2 separate regions of the Homo sapiens genome follow, and region 2 is linked to region 1. Evidence: fine-mapped expression QTL. A gene starts in region 1. The other region holds a variant in brackets. All regions are shown on one strand. Distances are from middle to middle. Region 1 holds the start of RBFOX3 (RNA binding fox-1 homolog 3). Region 2 overlaps RBFOX3 (RNA binding fox-1 homolog 3).

What was found. PIP is the estimated chance that this variant, and not a neighbour inherited with it, causes the effect.
Region 2: its variant is fine-mapped to the expression of RBFOX3 in blood mononuclear cells (TOPMed, PIP above 0.99).

What each region holds. Positions count from the first base shown.
Region 1 is chr17:79,605,361-79,616,967 of GRCh38, forward strand. It overlaps RBFOX3 (RNA binding fox-1 homolog 3), which reads right to left and starts at 5,691. Exons shown (of 15, transcript NM_001350451.2): 1 at 5,466-5,691.
Region 2 is chr17:79,550,224-79,561,830 of GRCh38, forward strand. The region is part of intron 1 of RBFOX3 (RNA binding fox-1 homolog 3); the gene reads right to left. Among named protein-coding and RNA genes, the nearest start is that of RBFOX3, 55 kb to the right of the region's middle. The variant A/C (reference allele first, on the strand shown) is at 6,059.

The DNA.
Region 1 (11,607 bases):
CCTTGCCTGCAAATGGGATTATTTTCTAAAAGGGCTAAAATAGACATACCCGGCCACCTTCCTCGCCAGCTGGCTTCCACTCACAGCCCAGCGTTCAAGGCAGGGTGGGCTCACCTCCCCAAATATGGAGCAGCCAGCCACGCAGAGACCTGCGCATACAGAGCTGATGACCAGCGGTGGGTCCAGTAGGGAGACGGCCAGGTACAGAGCGGTTGCTCCGCCTAGGCCTCTGTTCTTCTGGAGTCTTGGGAGAAAGCTCTCAGCACAGCCGCTAACCAAAGCAATAAGCAAGTAAATTCCTGCTAAAAATACATATATTCTTCCTCTTTCTTTTTTCTGCTGGGAATATGTTCTGAGCACAAATAATTAAACCTTAAAAGAAAACTTGCAGTAGCAAGTGCTTGGCTCTTGGTCCTAAGAGGAAACCACGGAGGCTGAGGACCCCCAACTCAAGTTGACGCCAGCAAGTTACAACCCACCTCTCAGGTGGAACCCACGAGCCCTGGCCCCAACCTACACGGAAGGAGTGGAGACGGATCCAAGGGAAGACTGATTTTCACTTCTAAAAAGCTTCCCCAAGCCGCAGCTTTCTCTACCCACAAGGGGAACACTCCCCACAGAGGAGAGCACCCCATCCCTTGTTCTTCTGCCCCCTATCCCCTGACTGCAGAGCCTTCGATACCACAGTCTTGTCAATGTTTCGAGTGCAGTGAGTTGGCAGGGGCAGCAGCAGTGAGAAGGGAGAGGAGGGGCAAGGAGACCACCTCAAGCTGCTGGTCTGTCTAGAGACCAGGAAGAAACCAGAAGGACGCCTGGGCCTGACCAGAACAGTCAAGGCCCCCACGTGTCTTACAGGTAAGGGCCAGGATCAGAGGCCTGATGACACCAAGCTCCCTGCACCCAAGAGGTGGCCTTTGCTTTGGGAGAAAACATACTTGTCCACTTAGCACTTGTAATTTCTATAGGAGTCCTATCACACAGTGGAGCACATCCCTAGGCCCCTAAATTAAAGATGGTGGATGGTCCTTTCCCAGGCCAAGAGGGGGACTCCCGTGGTACCCGGGCAAGACGCATCCAGAATGACTCCTTCCACCTAGACCCTGGCCACACTTTTCAAAATGCAACTGATAGACTGAGCTCGCCCCGAGCTACAAATAAACTAACAGACTTTATACTCTTTATTATTCCAGCCTCCCTCTAAGGCGTGTTTTGGTGTCAGTCTATGTGTTGGAGAAACTGTGATAGCAAACTAATTTACTAAGTGCATTGCACTTAAAAATGTCTATTTTATACACCAAATCAGTCTGTGTCACGTGGTATTTCTTGAAGGGAGGTGACTCGTCTGTCTGTGGGTCCCCAACCCAGAACAGGCCCCGCCGGGTATGCACAGCATATGTATGTGTGCAATGCTCCTTGCATGCCCGCCATGCAACTGTTAACCAAGAGCCGTCCTCAACCCTCACAGGTCACACAAGGAGGCAATCACACACTAAGCATCCGCGCCACTCAGAAAGCACAGGAGGAAAAAAGAGTTGGGGAGAGGAAGAGATAGACGGACAGGGAGACAGGGAGATAGACCCAGGACGTTATAGAGGACAGGGATGGCTCAGGGAGCAACCTTCTTCAGAGAGGCAGCAGAAAGTAAGATGTTGAGGCTGCCTGAATGTTTCATGAGCCTGTGAAAATACCGCGCTGCTTTATGAAAGAGCGTGGAGAGATGCTGCAGCTTATCAAAGGGTGGAGGTACAAACGGGATGTGTTTATAAAGCCGGTGCCTTGTGCCAGGAGCAGGGGCCTGTGGCAGGCAGGGATTTAGGGAATGGTAGGTTCCCTACCAACCAACAAACGGGTCTCTGTTGAAGGGGGAGAAAGTTTCAAGATGGCTTCTTCCCCTTCACTTGTTTAAAAATAAAAAATTCCTCACCAAATGTCAGCTGCGTGTCAGGTTCCATTTGTCTTTATAACAGAGTATCAAGCAGGAGCGTGGAAATAAATAAACACAGGGAGACAACCGACCAAAACTTGCAGGCTCTGGGCTGGGCTGGGCTAGAGGAGGGAAGCCCCACCCTGCAAGGGCTGAAAAATAATATTGCAGTTTCGCGTTCAGCACTGTGGCTCTGGCCCACTGACATGTTTTCCTCTCTTTACTGCCCCCCACCCCCTACCACCACCACTCTGGCGCTTCTGGGAGGGATAGGAGCGTGACTTATGCATTCCTTCCTTCCGAATTGCACAGGCATCATGGGTCAGAACACCATCTGCGTATATGGGGGAGGGGGCAGATAAACCAAGCAGGGCCCCTGCCCTCAGCAGCAAGGCACCTCCAACTGCCACACATCGGTATGAAGGCGCCTTAGGCCAGGGCTGAATGTGGCTGGGAGAGAGGTGTCAAAGAAGGCTGCAGGGGAGAGGCAACAGGGCTGAACCAGCCAGGGAAGATGGCATTTTCTCTGGCCACTACAGTGTCTAGTTCATCCCTAGACACCAAAGAGCCCGATAATCTCTCCATTTCACCGATGCGCCATCAGCCACGCTCCAAGTTGAGTAAGTGACAGGCGCAGGACAGAAGGCCCACTCTGGAATGGTACCCAGGAGGCCTCCTTGCTGTAATTACCTCTTCGCAGGCCCTGGGCTTTTCTGGCTCTTGAATGAGCCTCGGGAGCCCTCCCCATGTCCTCAGCAGCCTGAGGGCGGCCGCCCGCAGCGCCTCCAGCGGCCCTGGGACCGTGTCAGAGGAGGGAGGGCGAGGAGGGCAGGCTGTGGAGGCCCCGGCCCTGTCCTTGGTGCTGGCGCCCGCTGAGTGCCTGCTGAGCCACTCAGAGGCAGGGGCCGCCCATGCCGCCACCTTCCCTCGACATCCGCCTCTGGTCCCTGCGGAAGGGCAGTGAATACTCCCAGCCCCGCTGTGGCTCCCAACCGAGGTCACTGGGTGCGGAGCATTTGCCGCAAAGGCCCATCCGAGTAAGGGGCGGAGCCTAGGGACTTCCCTGGACTCCTGGCTCCTCCTGGCACCCAGAGGCGACCCGAGGTCCCCGGGGTGGGCACGGGTCTCTCTAGGCCCCAGGCCCCTGAGGAAGGTGGATCAAAGCAATCACCCAGGTTCCCTTTTTTCTTTGGGGGGAGGAGGGTGGATAGCTGCTAGAAATGGACAACTCACCCCAGAAAACCCCGGCCGTGCAAGCGCAAACAGCCCAGCACCAGTGGCAACCCCTGCCGCACGCACGCAGCCACCTCGCCAGGCCCAGGCTGTCTCGGCTTGGGTGCGTCCCTTCAACCGTGCTTCTTGCTCCTTAACCCCTTCAGTGGTCCCCACGTCACCCGCTCTGTCTCCCTCCTGGGGACAGCCTTGCCCTCCCAGAAGCTGTCAGCCAGGAAATGAAGGGTTAAGCGTTGCTTCCAGGAGTGTGCGGTGAGCGGTGAGCGAGGCGCCCACGCAGGAAGGCCTCCAGTCCTGGGGGAGGGGCGGGGGGGCCAGCCTCGGTCCTCGGCCAAAGGGAGCTCCTCGCCCGCAGGAGGCGGAGAAGGAAGGCGCGCCGGGATGGTTCTAAGAAGGCTCCCCTCCTCCGCCCCCGCCATGCCGCCCCCACGCCCCCACCCCGCCGGCGCTCAGTGACCTGGGGCGCCCCTGCAAGAGGCCCATACCCGGCTTTCATCAGGCAGCGCCTTCTCGACAACTTTTCTCCCTCTCTCCCCTCACAATTTTTGCTCACCTGGAGGGTCGGTTTTTAATTAGTGTAATATCCCCGTGAACAACGCAGCCTAATTAAGACATCCGTCCCGAATCCGCGATGCACACTTAATGAGCAGGTTCTGCCGCAATGTTTATACTTTTTTTTTCCATTATGTTTTGCAGACCAGTAAAACCGAAGCCGGCTTCCGGCTGAAAGACCTCATTACGGGCGACCCCACTCCATTAGCCTCCTACCTGCTCCACGCTAAGTGCCCGGGGCGCCCGGGTGCATGCCCAAGGCGTCCCCGAGTCCAACCTGCGTTTGGAGCAGGAAATTAGCAACCTGCGCGCCCGAGAAGCGACTTCACCACCAGCTGGGGCAGGAAGGGGGACTTAAACCCAGGGATGGATCCCTTGGGTCTCTGTCCTTAGCCTCCACCGTGGGGTGTCTCGCGCGTCGGGACTAGCGGCTCCGCGGGACTCCTTTTTAAAAGTGATCATTAAATAAATCAGGTACCTCGCCAAAGCTGGAACGGAAAGGGGAGGGGGAGGCAGCTCTGTTGTCCAGGAGTTTCTCCCCACCTCGCTGGGCCCCCGCCCCCACCAGTGGACTCCGGGAACATCCCACCCCCACCCTACGTGATACCAGGGATCCCAGGGCCGCTTGGGGACCCGACAGGTTCCCAATGCCCCTCCACGCGGGGCGCCGCGTCTCGGTCCCCGCACCGACACTGCAGGGCTGCGCGCCAGGGGAGGCTCCGCGTCCCGGGGAGGGAGGCTGCGACCCCCAGCACCAAAATGACCACTGGCCTCGCGCCACCCCGAGACGCCACAGAAGACCACCTTCCCGAGCGTGCGAGCCCAACACGCCCCGGGCGAGCCCCACCACCGCCCGGGGCCACCAGGGCAGAAAGTTTGGGCCAGGGGCGTGCCCGGCTTTCCCAGCCCGGCCGCGCTGCTCGAGGCCCTGGGGGTGGCCGAGGCTTCAGAGAGGCAGCCTCTGCTCCCGTTCCAGCCTTCCTATCGTGCTTGGGGACTCGGCCCGGAGCGCCCCCAGCCCGCCCCCTGTAGGGCCCTGCGCGCCGCTCGCCCCTCGCTGCTCGGCCCCCGCGCACACCGCGGTGCTGCGGGCCCCGCTCCTATTTGGGGAGCTGTGGCAGCCCCTTCCTCCCCACAACTCCTTTGGGTCATCAACCTCTCAGCGACCCTCCTTTCAGAGGACCCCGGCAGGGCTCTCTCCGGGCCTGGGTGCCGCGACAGACGCACGTTGCACCACCGCCGGGTCGCCAGCCTCTCTCCCACCCGCGCGGGCTCCGGCTGCCTGCTCGGACGCGCCCCGCGGGGCCGGGATCTCCGCGCGCCTCTGCCTCCCCCCGCCGGGGAGTTCCCCGCGCCGGGCATTGTGCCGCCGCCGCCGCCGCCACAGCCACCACCACCGCCACCGCCACCGCCACTGCCACCGCCACGCAGCGCGCGGGACTCCCTGGCGTCTCCATGGAGCCCGACCCCCGGGCCTTCCCATTCACAAAATCGCCCCTCTGGCCCACGGCCGGACAGAGCGTCCAGACCCCAGCCCCGGAGGGACCCAGGGACCCCGACCCCGCGCAGGGACCCCTGACCCCGAGGGCGCCACCCCACCCCACGCGCCCTCGGGTCAGCCCCGGCCGCGCTCAGCAGCCCGCCTCCCACTGCGGGGTCCCATGCGCCCCTCCGCGGCCATGTCCCCCTCCCCCAGCTCAGCCCGATGGGAATGACCGCCGCAGAGCGAGGCGGGCGACGAGGCCAGGCTACTCACGGGCTCAGCGCTCCCCGCGGCAGGTGACTGGGGGCCGGCGGCCATGCCCCGGCTGCATCCCGGCCGCCGAGCGGGCAGCGGCGTCCTGGGGCCGCACAGGCACCGGCGAGCCAGCGGCAAGGGGCGCGCGAGGCCGGGCTCGGGCGGCAGCTGTGGCAGCTGCTTCTCCTCCGACCACGCGAGCTGCTGGGGCCCGGCTGGGGCCGCTGTCCGAGGAGGTTCTGCTGGCTTCGGAGCAGCCCCGCGCTCGCTCTTCCCTCGCCTCCTCTCTCTCTCTCTCTCCTCCCTCCTCTCTCCGCCCTCCTTCTCTCTCTCTCTCTCTCTCTCTCTCTCTCTCTCTCTCTCTCTCCGCCCTCCTTCTCTCTCTCTCTCTCTCTCTCTCTCTCTCGTTCCTCTGGCTCGTTCGGCTGGAGCGAGGCGGCAGCAGGAGCACGCGGCGGCGGCGCGGGCGGCGGTGGCAGCTCGAGCGGAGCGCGCAGCGCGCGGCATGGGAGGGGGCTCTGGCTGTCGCGCGGCCGGGGAGGGCGGCGGAGCGGGGAGAGCCATGACCGGGTGGGCTTCGGCGGTCAGCACCCTGCAGCCTTCAGCGCCAACTCCTCGGGGCAGGGGCACAGAAGAGGTGGGGTACACACGGAAGATCCCAGAACCCAGTGCTGCCCTGGTCCCTTCAAGGGCAGCCCCAAGCCCGCTGCCCCTCCCCACCTCCAAGCTATCTTGGGGGCGGATCAACCCAGGTGACCCTTAACAGGACCCCTGCCCTTGTGCCTCGCTGTCCCTGGGGGCCATTTTTCTTTGCCAGGCCCAGGGATCCCCAGCAATGGGACGTGGTCACCAAGCATCAGGGACGAATGCCACCCCACCCCGCATGCCATGCCATGCCTTTGAGTTGCCCACATACCCCAAACCCCCTCACTAGGCCCAGGTGCCCTGACTTCCTGGAGGACCACTGGAAAGGAAGGGATCGGGCCCACTCCGTGCTGTTAGTCCAGATTGGCCAACCCAACCCATTTAAACATTTCCACCTGTGCCTGGCTGGAGAGGAAGGACTGTGGGAGGTCAGCTTAGGATTTCCCTAAAATCAAAAGATCAGGTAGCTCCTGTCCCCAGTCCCAGCCTCCCCCAGCATCTAGAGTAAGGGGCCTGGTGTGAGTTCTGGGAGGGTCTCTATCCTTGGTGCAGAGGGAGCAGGAGAGCAGAGGCTGAGGACACAGTGGAGTGGGGACCCTCTGGAAAGGCAGGAGAGATCTATTGCTGGGGTCAGCCCACCACTGGCACACAACACCAGAAGTGGGCAAGAAGGTCTGGACGGTCCCAAACAGGTTTAGGCAGGAGGCTGAGTAATCATTTCCAAAACAAAAGACATTCTGGTGCAGCAACCAGGCTGGAGAAACGAGCCTGCACCATCGAAGGACATTTCCAAATTACACACAAACAGATCCAAACCCGTCCCCATGTCACTTTTGCTCCTGAAGGCTGCTCCTGGAACAATTAGCCTCCTCCTCGCACCTGACTGTCCTGCTTTTCTGTGTGAGGTGAAAAGCACATCATGGAATCTGGGGTTTGGTAGGGGCCTGGAAGACCCAGAGGCCAGGAAGAGGGGAGTATGGATTTGGAGCTTCTCGGTAGTAGGGGCTCTGGGCTGCTGGCTGCCCCCCCTGCAGGGCAGCAGAGACGGTGGCCAAGACAGTGGCCGCTGCCCACTTATGAGCGTCATGCTTTTAATTTCTGGCCCTCCAGCCCGTCTGGGTCATTGATCTGTCTTGGCCGGTGGGAATCGTGTTATACAATTCCAAGCATACAGCTAAACAGCCCCACAGCTAACCACCAGATAAATGCCGTGTCTACGAGCAAGGCAGCCGCCTGGTTGACTGAACTTTCCCCTGCCACCGGATTTGAAATGGCGCATTCCAGCTCTAAAGCCCTAATTGGGCCTCTTGGTTCTCTGCTGTCAGATGGTCCAGGCTTTCGTGGCCTCCAACTCCCGGCTGGGCCCAGCCACTGCCTGGCAGGCACCTGTCTCCCTGCAGGCAGGGCTCTTGCCTCGCTGTGCCGGCAGTGCCCCCTGTCGGTCCCGCTTGTCCCTTGCCCACATTTCTTCTCCCTGGGGAGCCTTTTCCTCTCTGGTCCAGACCCTACTGCCCTTTGGAGCCTCCTCGCAGAAACCTCTCGAAGAGTGGGATTCGAGCCCATCTCCGTCTCCCTTCAGCTCCCCATGCGAGTTCTGCATGTGCCTGTGAAGTGGGGACACATTGACCTGGCAGAGCTGTGTGCCCGAGTGGAAGAGGGGTCCCTGCAAAGCATAGGGCCCGGTAAATCATTCCTTGGGGACGTTCTGGAAGAGCTCTCTGAAGACAGCACCAAATCTTGTTCCAAGTTCCACCAGTCCCAGCCCAGGACTCAGGACACGGTGGGCCTGCTCAGACGCCCGGGTGGTAAACTGAAATTGGCCTCTGTGGTTGGGACTGGCCACAGGGCCTGCGCGTGAGGACACCCCTTGGGAACAGGCCCCAGCCAGGCCGGCCTCATTACCAGCCCCAGAGAGTTTGCCCTTCGTGCTCAGCTGTCGTAGACAGGGATCTGGCCGGAAGAGAGTAAGTGTCAGGGCCAGCAGGACATACCAGCACTAACCGGGAGATTTTCCATTTGGGGACGTCATCTAAGAGAATTTTTAAAACCTCTGATTTGGAAACTTTAATTTTTAAAAAGTGAGCACATGGGGAGGACTGGGGAGTCCTTGGTAATAATCATTAGGAGAGAAACACAGGGAGACTGGGCTTGGGGCCAACAGGACGACTGAAGGCACAGAGCTAATTTCGTGCCCTCTGAAAAATCCCACTAAAACTACAAAGAGAAAATTTTAAAAAGGGGCTGGGCATGGTGGCTCAAGCCTGTAATCCCAGCACTTTGGGAGGCTGAGGTGGGTGGATCACCTGAGGTCAGGAGTTCGAGACCAGCCTGGCCAACATGGTGAAACGCCGTCTCTACTAAAAATAGCAAAACTAGCCAGGTGTGGTTGTGGGTGCCTGTAATCCCAATTACTTGGGAGGCTGAGGCAGGAGAATCACTTGAATCCGGGAGGTGGAGGTTGCAGAGAGCCGAGATCGCGCCACTGTACTACTCCAGCCTGGACAACAAGAGTGAGACTTCCATCTCAAATAAGAATAACTTTAAAAAGGCATAAACCCCAACGACCTGGAGAATAGGAGAAAAGAGAACAGTAGCCGGCTGTGGGCAGCGGGGAGGCACAGGAGAAGTGGCGGCCCGCCCTCACGGAGCTGAGTCTCGGCCCAGAGGCAGGGAAGGCTGACAATGGAATCCCCCGAAGGCTCAGAAGGCGTGGGGCCCAAGACCCGGGGAAGCCTGGAGATCCTCGGATAGCCCCTCTGGAGGTTTATTCCCTGAGGACACTGAAGCAGCCTCTGTGGCCTGGGGGCCGCCAGACACTGCGGACAGAGGGGCGTCCTGCACGGAGAGCCCCCCTTTTCCCTCACGGCACCTGTCAGCATCCTGACCTCCACCCTCCTGGCAGGAGGCCGGAAGAATCTCCTCTGGGGAATCTCACCAGCACCCAGAGGGGAAACCTGAAGATAGAGCTTTGCTGCTTCCAAGCACAGGCCCCACTCCCTGCTCGGAGCTGCCAACCAGCTTTGCAGCCCCCCTAAGGTGAGTAAAAAGCCAAGGATGACCAGACACCTGCGGAAAGCCTTCATGAGAAGGAGCCGCCAAAACACGCAACAGAGCGGGGCCGACTTCGAGGAAACAGATATTAGGCAGGGAGGAGAAAACATCAGAAATAGCAGTATTTAATATCCTCCCAGAGATCAGAGGAGATACCGCATCCATGAACCAAGAGCAGGGTGCTATTTTAAGGAGAACATTTAGAGAACAAAAAAGCTGGGAAGTTAAAAGCATGAGAGCAGAAACAAAACATCTCAACAGACAGGCTGGAAGAGAAAAGTAAGGGAATGCCCCAGAAGGCAAAGCAAAAAGGCAAAGAGGAGAAAAAGAAGAAAGAGGGGATGAAAAAAAACTAGATGATCAATTCACGAGGCTCAACACAAAAGGAATTCTAACCCCGACCCCCATAGGGCCCCCAGAGAGAAGGAGGAGGAGGAGAAGAAAGGAAATCATCAATTACTTAAGAATTTTTTTCCAGAAATAAGTTTCCAAATTGTCCACAAAATCGATGGAAATGATTCATATCAAGGCACATTATCTTGAAAAGTAAATCACTGAAGAAAAAAAAAAAATGTTTCCCCAAGTTTCCAGGTGCCATAAAAAAGAGCAGGAACGAGAATAGCTCCAGAATTCTCAACACAAAGAGGGCAGCTAACCAATCACAAAGCGTGCCTTCAAAAGCTGATGGCAAGTGATTTCTGGCCTGGAATCCCTTACTTCACAAAATTAACAATCAAACGTGAGATTAAAACAAAGACATTTGCACATGCGAGATCTCGACAAAATTATTTCCCACACACCATCTCTCAGCTACCAGAGGACGTGCTCTAACAAAACAAGGGTGTAAAGCATGAAAGAGGGCAATGAGGGATGGAAGAAACAGAGGATCTAGTAAGCGGGCAGGGATCCACATAGTGGGAGAGGAGGGAGGGCAGGAGGGCAGCTGTGTACCGGGCAAGAGGTTGCCAGTCCAGATGAGAGCAGGGTGGTGGCATGTCCAGCTGCCTAGGGCTCAGACATGTAGAGGGCTGTCACTACCAAGATGCCTCCTGCCATTGTACCACCCTTTCAGTGCCAGGTGAGCCTGGCCCCTGCTCCCCTCTGTGCCCGGCCGGCTCGGGCCGTGTTGCAGTGGAGTGCCTGTTTTCCTTTCCACGCACTGCCACCTGTGTAAGCTGAAGACCCTCATTTCGCCCCATGGAAGCATTTACTTTGATCTACTCTTAGCATCAGGAGGTGGCCACAGGGAACAAAGAAACAGAAAACACACATCAGCCCACCAACCTGCAAGAAGCCCCAGCCAAGGAGGCCCTTGGTTCCCCAGGACCCCTCATGCCTTGCCCAAGAACTCCCTAAAAGAGGCTCTTGTAAAGCGTGGGGCAGCTGCGGTTCCAGAGTTTCACATTGTCTTCTCCCAGGCTCCTCCGTCTAAGGGTAGCAGACCCAAATCATCACAGACAGAAAGGACATCATGGCCCCACTTTCATATTCAGCACTGGACACATCCACAGATAGAAAGGAGGTGAAGATGCAACTGTAGAAGGATCGAGGAAAGCAAGAGATCAGGGGCCTGCTTTTTCCTTGCTGGTCTTTGACGTTCTTGTGAGGTCCACAGATGGCCAGCACCGACGGCCCGTTGGAGAGCTGATGTCACCGCCATTGGCTGCCTTGCTTGCTTTCTCAGTCCAACAGAGTAAATTATAAGGTTACTCTATGTAGTCGTAACCTCCTTGTTAAGAATGGATCTCTCGGCCGGGCACGGTGGCTCACACCTGTATTCCTAGCACTTTGGGAGGCCGAGGCAGGTGGACCACCTGAGGTCAGGAGCTCAAGACCAGCCTGGCCAACATGGCGAAACCCCCTCTCTACTAAAAATACAAAAATTAGCCGGGCGAAGTGGAGGGCACCTATAATCCCAGCTACTCAGGAGGCTGAGGCAGGAGAGTCACTTGAACCCGGGAGGTGGAGATTGCAGTGAGCCAAGATCACACCACTGCACTCCGGCTTGGGCGACAGAGCAAGACTCCATCTCAAGAAAAAAAAAAAAAAGAATGGATCTCTCTGTCTCTCTCTATACAAACACACACACACACACACACACACACGTGTTACTACTTCCCCACTACTGCCAGGCCTGCTACCGCTGTTGTATGTGTCGGATCTCCCCTTCAGGCCACCATCCAAGCACGCTGTGGGACCCTGTGCAGTCCTGCATCAATAAATACCACTTAGGGAGAGCCCCACACGACCTGAGGGAATGTATGATCAAAACGCCCCACTACTGTTTCACGAAACACGCGGGGCAGATGTGCAAACATTTATACTGTGTGGGCTCTCAGGGGTTGTGCACCTGTCCGGGCTCCATGGAATGTAGGTCACAAGGAGACCTTGGAGGTCAGAGACGCCAACCAGCTAACTTAAATGAAGACGTCACAGGGCCGGGCTGTGCTCTGTCCCATAGCTG
Region 2 (11,607 bases), 55 kb before region 1:
TCCCAGGGGCATCACCCTCAAAGCTTATGTAGCTTTGATGTAAAAGGGGCAGCTCCATGAAGCCAGACCTGTTCCATGGGAGCCAGTGTATTAACCAGCTCAGGCAGGAGAAATCATGGAATTGAGAGATTACGGTGCAAGGAAGGCTAAACTGGTACAGTAAAAGGGGGCCCAGACATCAGGGAGAAAGTCCAGATGCAGGTCCACAAGCTCATGGTAAGGAAGTACATCACACACACACGTCTAGTACCCAAGCCTGGGATGGAGGACACATAGACCATTCTATGGTTTATTTAATAAGTATTTTTCAAAGTACCACTACATGCTATAATCATTTACGGAATGACGGAATGACAAAATGACTAAGTGGATGAATAGATGGATGAGTGGACAGATGATGGGTGGATAGATGGGTGGGCAGATGGAAGAATAGATGGATTAAAAGACGGATGGATAGGTAGGTGGATGGGTAGATGGATGAGTGGATGGAAGGATGGATGAGTGGATGGAAGAATGGATAAGCGGATAGGTGGCTGTGTGGATGAATGCGTGGGTGGGTGGATGGATGGATGGTCAGTGAGTGGGTTGATTTATGGACAGACAGCTGGATGATACTCTGTTGAAATAAATGGAAGCAAATGGACAGAAATAATTTGACTTTGCAATTCAAAAATTCTCAAAATCTAGGACTTGGTATATTCTACATCAGTGCCATCCAATAGAACTTTCTGTGAGGACAAGAATGCTTTATACCTGCACTGTCCAGTGTGGTAGCCGCTAGCCCCATGTGGCTACTGAACACTTGAAATGTAACTAGTATATCTGAACAAAAGAAATTTTATTTAAATAGTCGCATGCAACTAGTAGTTGCTGCATTGAACAGAACAGTTCTAGAGTTTTTCAACACACCTTGCTGGTACTTCCTGGGAGGCCCTTGGGAATCCAGGCTATGCAAGGCCAGTTAGAAGAGATGACTCTGTGAGAAGCTGACACCAACATGAGCAGGGCGATTCCCCTCTCCCCCAGCCCCTGGTTTCTGCTGAACAAGAAGGGAACTTGCAAAGCCAGGGGCTAGGAAAATGCTTTTCAACTTTAACATGTAGTATAATTTGGATATTTGTCCCCTCCAAATCTCATGTTGAAATGCAATCCCCAATGTTGGAGGTGGGGCCTGGTGGAATAAGTGGATGGATGGGTGGATAGATGGGTCGGTGGATGGATGCCTGGTTGAATAGGTAGATGGATGAAAAGATGGGTGGATGGACGGGTGGGTGGATGGACGGGTAGGTGGATGGGTGGATGGATGGACGGGTGGGTGGGTGGATGGATGGGCAGATGGAAGGTGGATAGATAGGTAGGTGGATCCCTCATGAACGTCTTGGTGCCATCCTCCATTTGGGTCATGGGGGCGGATCCCTCATGAATGGCTTGGTGCCAACCTCCTGGTAACAAGTGAGTTCTTGCTCTGTGAGTTCACATGAGATGTGGCTGTTTAAAAGAGCCTGGAACTTTCTCCTCATGGTCTTGCTTCCTCTCTCACCATGTGACACTCTGGCTCCCCTTCACCTTCCGCTGTGATTGTAAGCTTCTTGCAGCCCTCACTAGAAACAGATGCCAACACTACGCTTCATGTACAGCCTGCTCATGGCCAAATAAACCTCTGTTCTTTATAAATTACTCAGCCTCGAGTATTCCTTTAGAGCAATGCAAATGGACTAATATAATATGCATACAAAGCACCCAAAAATTTTGTTTAAAATGCAGATCCTAAAATTCAGTAGGCATAGGGGAGGACTCAAACATTTGTATTTCTAATAAGCCCTTACATGATGCTGACGTTGGTCCAAGGACAATATTTTGAACAATAAGAGTTTTGGAGGCTTTCCATTCCAGAAAAACAAGGTTTTGTGGGTAGCAGAATGGAAAGACCCTAGAAGACCAAGATTAAATACAGAGAATATGGCATAGTAAAAGAAAAATTCAAATCTTCAAAATTTGATAATTTAAACAAATTAATGTATTGAAACCTTACTATAGGCCTGTATGCTATGGAAAATGCAGGGAGCTTCTGAGCTAGTTTAGGTTGCAAAATAAACACATGAAAAGTTAAACAATAAATGACTTAAAATAATGGCTTAAACATCACACATCAGCAAAGCCTTTCATGGCCCCCACTCTTCACACTGCAACCTCACCCTGACTCCTCTCCCAGCAGCATAATTTGCCATAAGAATATCATTATCTAAGTTACAACACAATTTTCTTATTCGTTTCCCACCTAGAATGCAAGCTCCAGTGGGGAAGGAATTTCTATCTGTTTTGTTCACTGTTGTATCACCAGGGCCTGAACAGGGCCTGGTGTATGGAAAGCGCTCAAGTCAGCAAATATTTCTTGAATTATAATGATTCCATTGTAATTCAAGAAATATTTGCTGACTTTAAGGCTTGGCTCCATTTGGAGTTTATCGAGGTGTAAAAAATGTTCTTCAGGATTCTTAAGTTTTTTGCACATGCATTTTGCACATTTCTTGTTAAGTTTATTCCTAGATATTTTATTTTTGTTATCATAAATAGGGGCCTTTTCTCCCATTATATTACTGTTGTAAGACAGATACATATATACATATGGACATGCATACATGCATACATAGGATTACCTTGTTGGTTGTAGTAGTTTTTCATGGATTCTCTAGGATTTTCCAAGTATACAATTATATCATCTAAAAAAGGGTAATACTTTTAGCCCCTCCTTTCCAATATTTATTCTTCTCATTTCTTTTCTTGTCTGATTGCATTGGCTAATGCTTCTGCTACAATATGAAATAGTAGTAGCAAGAGTAGGCATCCTTGCTTTTTTCTTAACTTCAGTGTTTCCACATTAAGAAAAAAATGAGTTTTGAATATGATTACAGTCACGTTAAGAAAGTATCAATTTATGTTTTGCTGAATGTTTATCAAGAATGGATGCTGAATTTTGTTAATGCTTTTTCAGTGTTAAAAAAGATAATCGTGTGTTAATTCTCTTTATATTAATATGATGCATTATATAAACAGATTTCTTCCTATTAAACCATTCTTGCATTGCTAGAATAAACTCCAAGTAAACACAGGGTATTATTATTTTAAGATGATGCTTGGATCCTATTTGGTAATCTGTTATTTAAATTTTTGCATTGATATTTATAAGTGAGACTGGCCTGTAGTTTTATTTTTGTACAATATTTGTCAGGTAAAAAAAATTTTATTCTCACTTTAGGAAAATTACTTAGACTTTTTCTTCTTTATCTTTGCTGTGGAACACTTTAATTAGCATTGGAAGCACCTGCTCTTTAAAGGTTTTGTTCAAATTCCCCTGTGGAACCATTCAGACCACAAGCTTTGTGTGAGAGTAGCTTAGAAACTTTCTATCTTCCATACAAATTGATCAGTTTGGTAAATTATATTTCTCCCTTATTATTCCTCATTATGTGTTCCTTGGGTTTTCTTGGGGTTTTTTTGTTTGTTTGTTTTCGTTTTTGAGACAGAGTCTCTCTCTCTCTCTCTCTGTTGCCCAGGCTGGAGTGCAGTGGTGCGATCTTGGCTCACCACAACCTCTGCCTCCTGGGTGCAAGCGATTCTCCTGCCTCAGCCTCCCAAGTAGCTGGGATTATAGGCACCCACCACCACATCCTGGCTAATTTTTGTATTTTTAGTAGAGATAGGGTTTCACCACGTTGGCCAGATTGGTCTCAAATTCCCAACCTCAGGCAATCCACCCGCCTCGGCCTCCCAAAATGCTGGGATTACAGGCGTGAGCCACTGTGCCTGGCTGCTTTCTTGACTTCTAACCTTGACTATGTTTGTTAGTGGTTCATCTAACTTTTTCCAGAAAACAGCTTTTATTTACTAGTCCCATTTTTCTATTTTGTGGCCCATTATTATTATATTAGTTCATTAATGGCTTCCTTCTACTTTTCTTCAGTGCATTATTTTTTGTCCTTTTTCTAACTTTTTTGAATCATAAGCTTAACTGAGTTACTTTTGTTCTCTCATTTTTATTGGCTGTGAATTTAAGGCTGTGCATCCTCTCCATCCTCACTCACAGTCACCCCTCACCTGGCCCTCTCCATCCTCACTCACAGTCACCCCTCACCTGGCCCTCTCCATCCTCACTCACAGTCACCCCTCACCTGGCCCTCTCCATCCTCACTCACAGTCACCCCTCACCTGGCCCTCTCCATCTTCACTCACAGTCACCCCTCACCTGGCCCTCTCCATCTTCACTCACAGTCACCCCCGACCTGGCCCTGCTGGCCCTTTCTTCGTGGGTGCTTCGCACCCCGCTGTGAGCCTGACTTCATTGTGCTGTGCTGTTTCCACTTTGCCTTCCCCAGCAGGCTGGGCTCCTAGGAGGTGGGGACCACGTCCTGCTCAGTTCTGGATGTCTAGCACCTAACACAGGGTCTCACACATGGAAGGTTTTCAATATACATTTGTGGGAAAAATTACAGGGTGGATAGTAATTTTGATGTAATATACAATCATTATAACTCTAAAACCAATATTTGAATATTAATTCTATTCCAGGCTCTGTGTTAGGTTCTGATGAGCATAACTTTTTTAATCCTCAGACACCACCATGAGGTGGGGTTTCCTCTCCCTCTTTTATGGAATAGAAGACCCGGGCTTAGAGAAGCTAAAGACTTCTCCAAACCATAGAACATCAACGGACAGAACTCAGCCTCATGAACAGCTAAAATGTACAGTCACAAAAAGCAAAGGAAACCAGCCTGAGGGGAACAAAGAGGGTCCACAGGGCAGGGCAGCCAGAACACAGGCTTGAGTGTCAGGCAGACTTGAGTTGGAATCAGATCTGCCACCACTAGCTGTGGGACCCAAGGCAAATAGTTTCTCTGTGCCTCAGATGTTTCACCTGTGAAATAGGGAGAAGAGTATCCATATCCCCAATGGATGACTGTAAAAATCACATGGGTGATAGCTATCACATACCCAGCACAATGCCTGGCCCATGGTAAGCACTCGGGAAGTGGTGATAGTGATGGCCATGGTGGTGGTGGTAGTGGTGGTGATGGTGGTGATGATGGTAGTTGTGGTGGTGGTGATGGTGGTGATGATGGTAGTTGTGGTGGTGGTGATGGTGGTGATGATGGTAGTTGTGGTGGTGGTGATGGTGGTGATGATGGTAGTTGTGGTGGTGGTGATGGTGGTGATGATGGTAGTTGTGGTGGTAGTGATGATGATGATGACAATGATAATGGTGGTGATGACAGTGGTGGTGGTGGTGGTGATGGTGGTGGTGATGGTAGTTGTGGTGGTGGTGATGGTGGTGATGATGGTAGTTGTGGTGGTAGTGATGATGATGATGACAATGATAATGGTGGTGATGGCGGTGGTGGTGGTAATGGTGATTATGTCAGTGATGGTGGTGGTGGTGGTGGTGATGGTGATGATAGTCATGATGGTGGTGATGGTGGTGATAGTGGTGGCAATGGTGATGATGGCAGTGATGGTGATTATGATAGTAGTGGTGGTGGTGATGGCGATGGTAATGGTGATAATGGCAGTGATGGTGATGACGGTGGTGATGGTGACGATGATGATAGTAATGATGGTGGTGATGGTAACGGTGGTGATGATGATGATAGTGGTGATGGTGGTGGTAGAAGGCAGTGGCAGCAGCAATGGTGTTGGCAACAATGACAACAATTACATTATCCCAGAACTCCAACTACAACAATGTCACCAAAACCCAATACCATACAGTGAAGACAGGCCCCATTGGAAAGATGAATCAATGCCCACAGAGCAAAAGAAATGGAAGATTCTAGAATGTCAGAGCGGGAAAGCATACTTGCAATCATCCAGACGCAATTCCTCCACTTTACAGACGGGGAAGCAAAGACCAGGATCAGGAGAGCAGTTTACCCAAGGTCTCACACCTGCTACCAGCCAGGCCTAGAGAAGACCAAGTTTTCCAAACCAAGCTGGTCTCCACTCCTCCCTCCCTGCTGACCCCTCAAACACCAGTGAGCACTTACTCTGGGCAGGGCACTGGCTT[A/C]GGTCCTGGGAACCCAAAGAAATGAATACAGGAAGGGGACGTCAGGACATAAGGCAAAATAGACAGCAGTTCCATTCGGTGGCAGGAGGAGGAGTGCCCGTGTGGCTCCGTAAAGCATTTGAAGGGCCGAGGAGGGGACAGACCATGCTGGAAACAGGGTTGATGGAGGTAGCTCTGCCCAGGCCGCCCACAGGAAGGCTTACAGGGAGCTGTTGGGGAGGAAGTGTTGATTTTAACACAAATGAGCGACAGGAGGAGGAGCTGTAACCACATCCAGAGTGGGTGGGGAGAGGAAATCAAGTACACAAATTAGGGCTGATGTGAAATTAACGGCTACTTAAAAGACTCGAACTAATTTAATAACTTTGTCAGTAATGAAAATATATGAACTAGGAAGAAAAGACGGGCAAAATATTTACTGGCAAAAGGCAAAATAAGCAAATATCTGAGAAGGCAGCACATCTATCAACGTCTTGAGATGGCAAAATTCCTAGGAAGGGAGGGACTTTCTGGAGGCACAGAGTCCACCGAAGGGGAGCGTGGGGAAGGGGACAGAATCAAGGACTCCTCACTAGCAGGGGTTGCTGCTGCCCAGGGGTTCACCCTGTGTCCAGCTGGTGCTCAGGGCTTTCCACGTCTGTCTCCATGGTCCCCAAAGAACTCTACTGAGAAACTGACAAGGCTAGTCATGGTGGCTCATGCCTATAATTCCAGCACTTTGGGAGGCCGAGGATGGTGGATCATTTGAGGTCAGGAGTTCAAGACCAGCCTGGGCAACATGGTGAAACTCCATCTTTACCAAAAAATATAAAAATTAGCCAGGCATGGTGGTGGACACCTGTAATCCCAGCTACTCGGGAGGCTGAAGCAGGAGGCAGAGGTTGCAATGAGCCGAGGTCGCACCACTGCACTCCAGCCTGGGTGACAGAGTGAGACACTGTCTCAAAAAAAAAAAAAAAAAAAAAAAAGGAAAGGAAAGGAAAGAAATTGCCCAGAGAATGAGCAGGTAGCCTGGAATTCCAATCCAGGCAGTGTGGCCCCAGGCCCTGGACTGTTAGTCTCTATCTGGTCTGTTACCCCTGCCCACCCACCCAGCCATGGAGAAGCCAACAAGGGCCACCCTCCAAACCCCGAGAAAACCCAAGTCCAGTCTACTCACAGCCAAGCCCCCATCCCACAGCTGCAGTCTCTGAGATGATGGAACATTTCCAAAGAGACCACGTCTGGGGCCGTGGGAGCCCGGCGGTGGTGGGGGGAAAGGGGGGAAGAGTGGCAAGGACCAAGTGACAGCTGCGGATCCCCAGCCCATTTTCATAGGTGCCACCAAATTAGCGGCTGTTGGTGAGGCCGAAGAAACGAGTCTGAAGAAATGTTCTGTGTGAAATTGGACTAGATTGGCTCTGGTATCAACACAGGCACAGGCTGAGGGAGGCTGGACAGCCATAAACAAAGGCTAACGGCAGATGTCAGCGTATCGGGCAGGCGGGGGCATCTCGTGGGAGGCCTCCTGGGCCACTGCAAGGCCCCAGTTTTGTTTAATATCCAAGCTAATGATCTGGAAGACAACAGACAGGTCACGAGCAAAACCTGCCGAGGACGCAGGGGGTGGCGCTGCGGTTGTTTGCTGGGGCAAGGGGACGGCCGGGAGACAGAGGAGACCTGGAGGGAAGATAAGTAGCTCCCAAGTAAATTGAGATTCAGCTTGAAGAAAAATTACAAACACTCAAATCTAAGAGGAGAAAAAAGCAGCCTGAAACTGCTATTTTCTGAGCCGAGGAAACCCAGGAAGCAGGGAGAGGGGACAGACTCAGATCATCACGAGGTCCATCGCAGACCAGCTTGTGATGTCACACGGGGAGGGTGATTTGTGTTTTGTTCACTGTTTGGGGGCAGGAAAGACATACCCTCAGAGGAGCTGAGAGGGCCACGTGGCCCAGGCCCAGGGATCTACCTGGGTGGCCGCCTTTGCTCTGAGGGGCCTGGCGCAGGAGCAGGAAGGAAAATTGGAGTTCAGAAAAATATTTGCTAACACAGAGAGAGTGAGAGCCAGGATCTCCCGCCCTGTGTGCATGAGAGCCAACCCAGTGTCTGGTGACTGGCAGACAGCAGGGAACCGTCCGGAGGGTCCAGGCGCAGAGACCGGCTGGGGGCAGCTGAGGGGCGGGGCTGAGGGCCCCAGGGTGCTGGCGGATGGGGAGGATCTTCCAAAGCAGAAACACCAGGGCCCACACTTCCCGGCTGCCCAGGAGGGAGGCAAGACCACAGTCAGGACCAGCCCTCCAAGGTGGCTTCGGGCCCCTGAACACTTCCCTCCCGGCCGGGCTCCATGCACTCACTGCTTGAGAGGAAACCAAAATTGTCAGCCCGGACACATTTGGAAATTTACTGGAGCAGCCTTCCCCTGCCTTGCGGGGATTGGGTTAGTCAACCTGTTAACCACATATTCTCACCACCCACAGTGCGCGGAGGCTGCGTGGGCCTGCGGGGAGCAGGAGGGAGAGAGGAGGGACCGAGGCCAGCTGCACAAGAAGGACATTGACAATGGTGGGGGGTGTGCCAGGGGATGCAGGGCCAGCATGGAGGGCACAGAGAGGCTTGCTAAGGAGCAGGACCCCTGTGGCCCAGAGGCTGTGTGGATTCAACGTGGGCAGGTGCCCTCACATAGCAAGCATTTACCAGGCATTGTCCATGCCAGGTGCTCAGCTGAGGGGCAGCAGCTGGACTCCTGAGAGTCCCCACCAGGAGACCCTGGGAGCCCTGGCCAGGCTGGTCTCGGGCCTGGGAACCTCAGTCTTACACGGGCAGCAGCACTGATGACCTCACAATCTAGCACATTAATTGTTCTCACTGGAATAGAGCTCCCTGAGGATGGGAGGGGCGGGGGTTGTCTGTCTTTTTTTCCCATGATTGTCTTACTGGTGCCTAAAATAATACCTAGCATGCATTAAGTGCTTACTAATTATTTATAGAATGGATGGATGGGTAGATGGCAAATGGTGGGTCATGGTGGGTGGTGAGTGGGTGGTGGATGGTAGATAGGTGAGTGGCAGTTGAGGTGGATGGTGGATAGTGAATGGGTGGATGGGATGGATGATTGGATGGATGGGTGGATAAGTGAATGGGTGAATGGTAAGTGGTGGGTGGTGGATGGGTGGATAGTAGATGGGTAGGTGGATGGTGACTGATGGATACTGCATGATGGATGGGTAGGTGGTGGATTTTGTATGGGTGGATAGTGGATGGTGAATAGGTGGATGGGTGGATAGATGAATGGTGGGTGGACAGATGGGTGAGTGGGTGGGGGGGTGGATGGAGAGTGATGAGTGAATAGGTAGATGGATGGATGGGTGGATGGTGAATAGTGGATGGGTGGATGGATGGGTGGGTGGGTGGATGGATGAGTGGGTCGGTGGGTGGATGGATGGGTGGATGATGGGTGGTGGATGGATGGGTGAATGAATGGGTAGATGGATGGATGGGTGGATGGTGAATAGTGGATGGATGGGTAGGTGGGTGGATGGATGAACAGATGGGTGGGTGGATGTTAGGTGGTGAATGAATGGGTGGATGGATGGATGGGTAGATGGTGAATAGTGGATGGTGGGTAGGTGGATGGGTGGGTGGGTGAGTGGATGAATAGATGGGTGGGTGGGTAGGTGGATGGTCGGTGGTGAATGAATGGGTGGATAGATGGATGGGTGGATGGTGAACAGTGGATGGGTGGAAGGATGGGTGGGTGGGTGTATGGATGAATGAATGGGTGGGTGGATGAATAGGTGGGTGGGTGGGTGGTGGGTGGATGGATCTTGTGACACCCCGTTGCATCTTCAGCAACTCCTAGAAAATCAGGTCCAAAGTAACAGCCTCCCCCACCCACCGTCAATCTCCATCCCAGCCCCAAAAGACTGAGTGTAGAAGTGACTGGGCTGAAATGGTTGCTGGGTGGTCACCGAGCCAGAGCAAAGCACAGGGAAAGGCTGAGGGAGACCCGAAAAGCCTAAGAATGCCCAGCTCTCACATACACAGGGATACTTTGCGAACTGCAGAGCAGAGAACCCATGCAGGTATTCATGCTTCATTCGCCATCCCACTGCAAATGAAGTGCCCTCCCTGTCCTGCTGGCGGAAGGTGTGAGAGGGCAACCACTTTACTTCTCCTTGACTGTAGCCTCAGGACCAGTCAGAACAGGTACTCAAGAAACAGCAATTTCATTTTTATGTTTACCAGGACGGTGGGCACCTAATGAGCAGCTACTGCCCACCCGACCATGGCGTGTCCAGGAACATTGAAGAATACGCACTCCAGGGATCATGGGGTTCAGTGACTTATGTTCCAGCACCAACTCCCCACATCTAAGCCTGCCAGCCAGTGCTGTCACAGCAACCTCACCTCACCACAGCCAGAACACTCGTGGCGGGAAGCCGTTCAGTCTCCATCCACAGATGCCCCCACCCACTTCCCCACCCATGACAGCACGGCCAGCGCGAGAGCTGCAGCTGCAGGTGCTTCCCGAGCTTCAGCCTGTCACTGGGTGGCATGCGGAGGACTTCACCTGCGTCCTCTCCTTTTCTCAGCTGCCCCAGGGGGTAGGAAGGATGCTTGGTCCCATTTCACAGTTGGGGAAACGGAAGCTCATGGGGATTCAATAACTTGTCCAAGACCACGTGTGTAATAAGAAGTGAAGCCAGCATTTGGACCCCAGCCAACTCTATGGGCCAGGCTCCCCACCAGACAGAGCTGGGGGCGCCTGGCCTCTCCCACAATCAGCTGCACCCTCAAAGGAGGATGTGTTCACAATTCAAACAAATAGACCTTGCACTACAGTGAGTCCAAAAGAGGAGTCTCAAAATCTTTAGAGATTTGGAACAGATGCTTAGAACTTAGTAAGGTGACTGCTTTGCAAAGGGTCCTTTTGCCATTTTAAAAAAGTCACTACCATGTATGCCCCTGGGGGCTTAAGTTCACCACCGTGCTCCAAGGGTTCAAAGGGAGTGTCAGGGGTGCCAGAAATAGAGCCCAGCCTTGCCAGGGCTGAGCAGCCGGCAAGCCCAGCTTCCAGGAAGAAACGCTGGACAGTCAGCCCTTCCCCAGGCTCTCCAAATCCTAGACCTCCCTCTGCTCCAGTCACCCCCAAGGATTAAGGGTGAGCAGAGACCACCACTGCAGATTCAGATGACAGAGAGCAAGGGTCGCCAAACTCAGGAGTCCCCAGAGACACACGAACGAGGCTGACCCCACACCCCAGCTCCACGAGGCCACTGGGTCAGCGCCTTTCCATCAGCCGATGTCACCGCTGAAACTGAAAAGCGGTGCGTGTTGGTGACAGCAGTGAGTGCCCAGTGTATGCAGACCCCTCGAGGCAAGCACCACCCAGCTGGGCACTGAAGCAGGTGTCCTCACAGCAAACTCTGCAAAAGGAGCCCTCCCTTCATCCCGGCCCGAGTCACAGAGCAGCAACCAGCGTCCTGAGGGCAGCCCTCACCTCTTCCCAAGAGAGGGGCACATGAGGGTAGGGACTTAGACCCAAAGCAGGCTCAGGCTCCCGTCCA